Homo sapiens: one gene and its partner. The protein of the gene in region 1 purifies or fractionates together with the protein of each later gene. This does not show direct contact. Each region holds a gene or a part of one and is shown on either strand. Other genes may lie near its edges.

The links.
Region 2: the proteins of PVRIG (region 1) and SUPT6H purify together in Homo sapiens (affinity purification with mass spectrometry; 3 studies listed by BioGRID and IntAct, with this or other methods). This does not show direct contact.

The regions. Positions count from the first base shown.
Region 1 is NC_000007.14:100,218,597-100,221,990, reverse strand, and holds PVRIG (transmembrane protein PVRIG isoform 3 precursor), read right to left. Parts: upstream 2,021-3,394; coding exon 1,963-2,020; intron 1,878-1,962; coding exon 1,527-1,877; intron 1,445-1,526; coding exon 1,318-1,444; intron 1,232-1,317; coding exon 1,171-1,231; intron 1,064-1,170; coding exon 740-1,063; 3' UTR 501-739; downstream 1-500. Other genes in the region: STAG3 (cohesin subunit SA-3), read right to left, coding at 3,318-3,374. UniProt on the Homo sapiens protein: Cell surface receptor for NECTIN2. May act as a coinhibitory receptor that suppresses T-cell receptor-mediated signals. Following interaction with NECTIN2, inhibits T-cell proliferation. Competes with CD226 for NECTIN2-binding.
Region 2 is NC_000017.11:28,700,205-28,703,179, forward strand, and holds the end of SUPT6H (transcription elongation factor SPT6), read left to right. Parts: coding exon 1-46; intron 47-141; coding exon 142-308; intron 309-736; coding exon 737-924; intron 925-1,234; coding exon 1,235-1,421; 3' UTR 1,422-2,475; downstream 2,476-2,975.

The DNA of each region.
Region 1 (3,394 bases):
ATGTCTGTGAAGGCCTCTGCCTTCCCCGAGAGGAGGCGGGGGAAGTGATTGAGGGAAGATTTCAGGTGAGTCCCCCTACTCTCCACACCCTGCCTAACGCCAGCTGTGGAAGGAGGGCATCAGGACCCCAGCCCAGGCCACAGCAGGGAGCCCAGCAGAGGGAAGCCAGGTCAAACCACAGGGACTTCTCTCAGGCCAAAGCCCCAGGAACCCTTGCTGTTGTCCTAGAACATGGTGGGATTGGAGCAGAGACCATCCCACTGGGATCCCCCAGCCCTATCTAGGCAGCCACAGGTGTCCCTCAGGAAGCTCCCCCAACACCCCTGCCACTCTGAGAAGCCAGGACAGATCTCTAAGATTGGGACACTGCCCTCTCCCTGGGCCAACCCCAGCCCTGCAATGAGGCCCCAACCCACTCTGGTTCTCACCTGGCTTCTGCCTCCCAGGGGTGGAGACTGCCTCCCCACTCTCTTCACCCCCAAAGAAGAAGCACAGCCGAGGCCGACATCAGAGAAACTGTGTTGCTGACTTAGTTGCAGCAGGAAATGACTGAAATGGGGTAACTGTCACTCACACACTCACACCTGTGCCCACACACGCACACACAGAGACCACATCCGCAGCAGGTGGGCCTGGCCAGACACCTATGGGACACTTATTGGAGGCCCAAGAATTAAAGTAAGGGGGTGACACCCAGGAGGCCTGGGAGGGGGAAAGCCCAGTGGCCTCATGGTCTCTCTCATCGAACTCCTAAGGGTCCTTCCATGGCCCTGGGCCCCCGAGGGTCAGGGAAAAGAGTGAGGCCGGGACCAGTGTGAGGAGGCCTCTCCCCTGCCTGAGCGTAGAGTCCATTCTCAACAGAGACAAAGCTGCCACGTGCAGGGATGGGTGTGGAGGCCCAGGCGGCAGGGCCCTGGGGCCGGTGTGCAGCGTGGGTGGGGAGTGACGCCCACCAGGACGGCCCCCCATGGGGGTGAGCTGTGTCCAAAGTAGCTGGGCGGCAGCTGGTGTTGATAGTGGCATAAGGGACGTGAAGAGCAGCCTGGGAGGCCTGGCTTGGTGCCTGCGCGGGGGAAGGAGGGTCAAGTGAGTCTGCACAGCTTGGGCCCAGCCCTGGCCCCCCTGCCCCTGCCCCTGTCACCTCATCCCCAAAGCAGGTCCCCTCCTCACCCATGCTCGTGCTCTCGGTGCCTGGGGGCTGGTGCGGGACGGCTGGAGCCTAGGGGCAGGGCTGGGAGAGAGCAAGGATGGTCAGAGCTCTGCAGGGCATGTGGCCATCCCAGTGTCAGGGGGACGTGGACAGGGACCAGGTCTCACCGGTGCTTATGTCGGCGCAGCAGATGAAGGAGGTAGACACAGCCAAAGAGGAGGACTCCTGAGACCCCCAAGATCCCGGCCAGGTCTGCCCGCAGAATGGGGGCAGGAGTCGGCGGGGCAGAGAGCCCTGGGCACGGAGACAAGAATCAGATGGGTGGCCAGTTCCCGAGCCCCTCCCTGCCCTCCTGGACCCCTCGCCCCGGCCCCACCTGGGTCTGAGCTGGGCGGGAGGCTCCCACAGGCCTCCCAGGAGCCCTCAGGGAAGGACGCAAACTTGCAGCAGAAGGTGGTGTTGGCGCAGGGGCTGCTGGCCCCAGAGCCTTCCAGGATGAGAGAGATGCTGCTCTGGGTTTCCCAGCGGGCCTGGCGAGCAGGGGCCCATTGCCGGATGCCACGTTCTGGGTGCAACACAGCCAGCGTGGTCCCCCCAGCACCGTTGGGGCCCCCCCAGCTCACAGTCACCAGGGAGATGGAGCCAGACCCCAGGAACCCACAACGGATGGTGAAGGACGAGAGCTCGGTGGCCTCCATCCGAACTTGAACCCACACCTCCGGGGTCCCTGTGGAACAGCAGCAAGGTCGGTGGGCTGTTGTCCTACATCACCCTCCCTGCAGCCCCTGCCCCTCTCTGGTGCCGGCACTCACCCGCAGTGACACACAAGGTCAGCAGCACCCAGGGCAGGACCAGGGTCCGGTGCCCCATGGCCCCCTCCAGTCCAGGTTCTGGGGGCTGCAGGGCCGGCACCTGTGCCTCTGTTCTCATCGCAGGAAGTCTTCATGTTGTCAGCAGCCAAACAGCCACTTCCTTCTCTCCTCTCACACCTTCCCCAGAGGTGGTGAGCACAAAGTGGCTGATTCCCTTCTTAAAGTGACAGTGAGGGCCTGCTCAGTCCCCAAGGCTGTGCTTCCAGGTAACAAGGCAGGGCGGCACAGGTGGGTGAGAACCCAGCCCTGGCTAGGCCTGGGGAGGCCAGGGGAGGGGCAGAGAAGCTGTCAGGGGCTAGAAGGACTCCCCTTCCCTGGACAGCAAGGGGTGCCGGGCTTCCCTAAGAAAGGGCTCTGTCCCGCCCCTCACCCAGCTAAGGAATCGGAGGAGAAAGCCCCTGGGAGTGGGAAGCCAGCAGGGAGGACCTGAGAGCCAGCCCAGCATGCATGACCCACTACCAATCTGATGTGGGTCCCACGCTTACACCTGCAATGCAGGCCTCCCCCACAACCCCCAGCCTGGCTCGCCCACTACCCACTCATACCTCCTGATCTACCCTGAACGCACCCCATACTGGGCTCTGCCCCAGGCGCTGTCTCCTCGTCATAGGTGATGGCAACTGGCTTCTGGCTGCTCGGGCCCAAAGCACAGCCACCAGTGCCTCTTCCCTTTCACTTCCAACGCACCAAGATTGTGTCAGCAAACAGCAGTCCTCTGCCCTAGCAGTGCAGAAGCCAGGAGTTGAACCCATGTCTCTCACCAGGTTAAGCTGCCTCGCTAAGTTTGGATGTGACCTCAGAAACAGAGGCTACTCCAGCAATACAAGATACTTTATTTTTCGGCTTCTACCTATGCCACCCAATCCCTTCACTGGGCCTAACTTAGTGAATCAAATTAAGTATATTTCCCTCCAAGTTGCCCCAGGATTCTGGGCTCCTTTGCACACTACAGGTTTTCTCTAAACGCCCTGGGTTTATCTATCCTTTGGTGAATTTTCAACTCTTCTTATTTCTCTGCCCTGTCCTGACCAAAAATCTTCAGTGCCTGTTTCTCTCTGCCATCCAAATCCCACACACATCTAGGGGTGAATCGGTGAATCTGCGCTGATGAGTGACACGTTTTGTGAATCCTTTCTAGGATCTCAGTATTTCATCCTATCCCGAGGGAAGGCTCTAAAGAGCTCAAGGAAGACCTCACGATGTCTATGTGTGAGAAGAAACCTTTCACCCCTTCACTATCACACCCCATCATCCAAGCACACACTCCTCTTTCATCCCATAAACCCCAGTCAGTGTCACCTGGAGTTATAAGGATGCGGTGACTTACCTAGTAACGGAAGACTCTCAGTAATCTGAAAAAGAAAAATCCCTT
Region 2 (2,975 bases), on another chromosome or scaffold:
ACACCTGCCTCTATCAATGCTACCCCAGCCAACATCAACCTTGCAGGTGAGGAGCTTGAGCCTGGGACTGGAGGTGGGAAGGATGGAGCTAAAGGGACTTTCACCTCTAACATGCCCCTCCCCACCTCTGTGTGCTTACAGATCTGACACGGGCTGTGAATGCCCTGCCTCAGAACATGACTTCACAGATGTTCAGTGCCATTGCTGCGGTGACAGGCCAAGGACAGAACCCTAATGCCACCCCAGCCCAGTGGGCCTCCAGCCAGTACGGCTATGGCGGCAGTGGAGGCGGCAGCAGTGCTTACCACGTATGTGGCTTGGGGAGGAAGCTCCCTGTGCAGGGTGGGGCCCATAGACTGCCCTCTCGCATTGCCCACAAGGGGCTTCACATGCACAGATGGGGCTGCCACGGCCTTGGTAACTGTCTCCAACAGATATTTCTTGTCCTTAGGCCCATTTGAAGGGGAAGAGGGTAAGAGAGGGCATAACCTTTCCACGGGCCTTTGGGATCTTTGGAACCCGCAAGCCACCAGAAAGTTGACATGGTCAGGACCAGTGGGCACCACTGTGTGCTCGGTGCTGACCTGCAGGCTTCCCACTGCTGGTCAGAAGCACATACTCAGTGGAAGATCATCTGGAAAGCTTTGCTGAGCCCACCCTTGCGCTTACCCAGAATTCACAGCAAGGCCAAACAAGCCCCACACCCATCCCTATTTAACTGTTCATGCCTCTCCAGGTATTCCCAACGCCAGCCCAGCAGCCAGTGGCCACACCACTAATGACCCCTAGCTACTCCTACACGACCCCAAGCCAGCCCATCACCACCCCTCAGTACCACCAGCTCCAGGCCAGCACCACCCCACAGTCGGCCCAGGCCCAGCCCCAGCCCTCTTCCAGCTCCCGGCAACGGCAGCAGCAGCCAAAGTAAGTATCTGGATGGTGGCACAGTGCAGGTCAGTGGTAGGGGCAGGTGTTGTCAAGAGGCCGAAAGGCTTAGCAGAGGCAGGTGCTCTGGATCCTCTGAGGGCCCTGACCACATGATATGCCAGGAACACTAGTTTCTGGGTGAAGACGGAAGAGGGCAGTATGGCAGCCAGCTGCTGCTGTATCTGCCTTATCCCAGTAGAGGGGCTGCTGCCCATAGGTATGAGGTTCCTTTCTGCAAGGGTACAGTGATTGGTGGGAAGACTTCCTTCTAGCAAAGTCCCAATCTCAACTTTTCTTCCCCTCCCAGGTCCAACAGCCATGCAGCCATCGACTGGGGAAAAATGGCGGAGCAGTGGCTGCAGGAAAAGGAGGCAGAACGGCGGAAACAGAAGCAGCGGCTGACACCTCGGCCCTCCCCCAGCCCCATGATCGAAAGCACCCCCATGTCCATTGCTGGCGATGCCACCCCACTCCTGGACGAGATGGATCGGTAGGGGGCCTGCTCCTCGGACTCTGGTTACCTCTGAGGCTGGGAAAGGCCTGGCTGCCCACTGCCTCCCTCCCTGCCCCTCCTTTTATGTCCATAAAGTGGCGTGAAGTGAGACGTTCTCTTTGGTGGTCAACCCGGATGGGTGACAGGCTGGATGGCCTTGTGAACTTGAGCTCAGTGTATGCTAGGCAACAATTCTCCCGCTCCAGACCCTCACCGACCACCTGTCCTGGGACCAGGCTGGGAGGGGAGTGTGGCAGGGAGGAGGAAGAGGAAGGTGAGAATGAGTAGAACAGTTTTGTATTCTACTCCCTACAAGCCATTTTGAACTTCTGCCCTCACCGGACTCTGGGCTGTGACTGGGGCACCAAACTCAGCACATGAGTCTCCCCTAGCTCTCGTGGGGAGAGGGATGCTATTTATTCAGTTTGGGGCAGGAGGGAGAGGAGGGAAAGTATTTCTGACCCTGATGCCAACAGCCGGGTGGCTGTCCAAGCAGGATTGCAGGGGACACAGGGAAGCACTGCCCAGCCCCTGCCTGGCTGCCCTTTCCCCCCTGCTGCTGCCACCGCTTCCTGCCTGTCATTTGAATAAACAGTGTTTCTATTGAGCTCTTGCCAAAGCCTCTCTCTCCAACTCTCCAGCTCTTTGAGGGGTGGCTTTCAAAGCAGTGTTTGGAGCTCCAAGGACTCCCCTGACTCCCTCTTCTGATCCATCAGAGGCAAAGATTCATAGACTAGAGGCAGCTTCTACATCAGACTGCCTGGGGCACATCCCTGCTCTACTTCCCAGCCGGGTGACCCTGTGCCAGTTCCTGCTGCCTTTCAGCTGGCTTTCTTACCTGTAACATGGAGATAGTGATACCTGCCTCATCAGCTGCTGTGAGGACCAAGGCAGCGTGTGCAAGCTCCTTGGCCCAACGCCTGGTACGTCGCAAATGTTACCCGGTATTATTACACCCACTCACTCACCCACAGCACAGCTGCCCCATCCGCCCATGCCTGCTGGTCTTCTCTGGCACCCTGGAGAAAGGCCACAAGTAAATCTGGATTTCTCAACTTGAGCCTCTGCCGTTCATCTCTTCCCTTTTCCCAGCTGGGCCTTGGTCTCTTGCAAGCTCTCAGCAGTAAGGTGTTCCTGCCCCAGGATGGGGCCCTGCTCACCTGCTCCCCTCCAACACACTGGCCCTGGCCCTTTGTCCCTGCCCCACTGCATTTTTTGTTCTGAACTCCTGCCATCCCTGTTTCTGCACAAGGGCTTCGTCTCACAGCTCTGTGAGTCAATGCTGGGAGAGTGGGGCCTCTGGCTCCCTTTCCTTTGCTTGGGGCTCAGCAGAGAAGTCAGAAAAGGCCACTGCTGCCCAGACGTGGCACACTCCCTCCCCTTGTTTTTCTTCATCAAGATCTGGGGGAAGGGGCCAGCTCTGCCAGGAACTCAAGTCAGCTCCCTTCAGCACAAAAGGGCTACAAGGGAGGAGCTAGACCACCAGCTGGGAAGGTCAGTCTCTGGTAGTACCACGAGCACCTTCTGCAGAGCCACTTAGAGGAGGGAAAGGCCA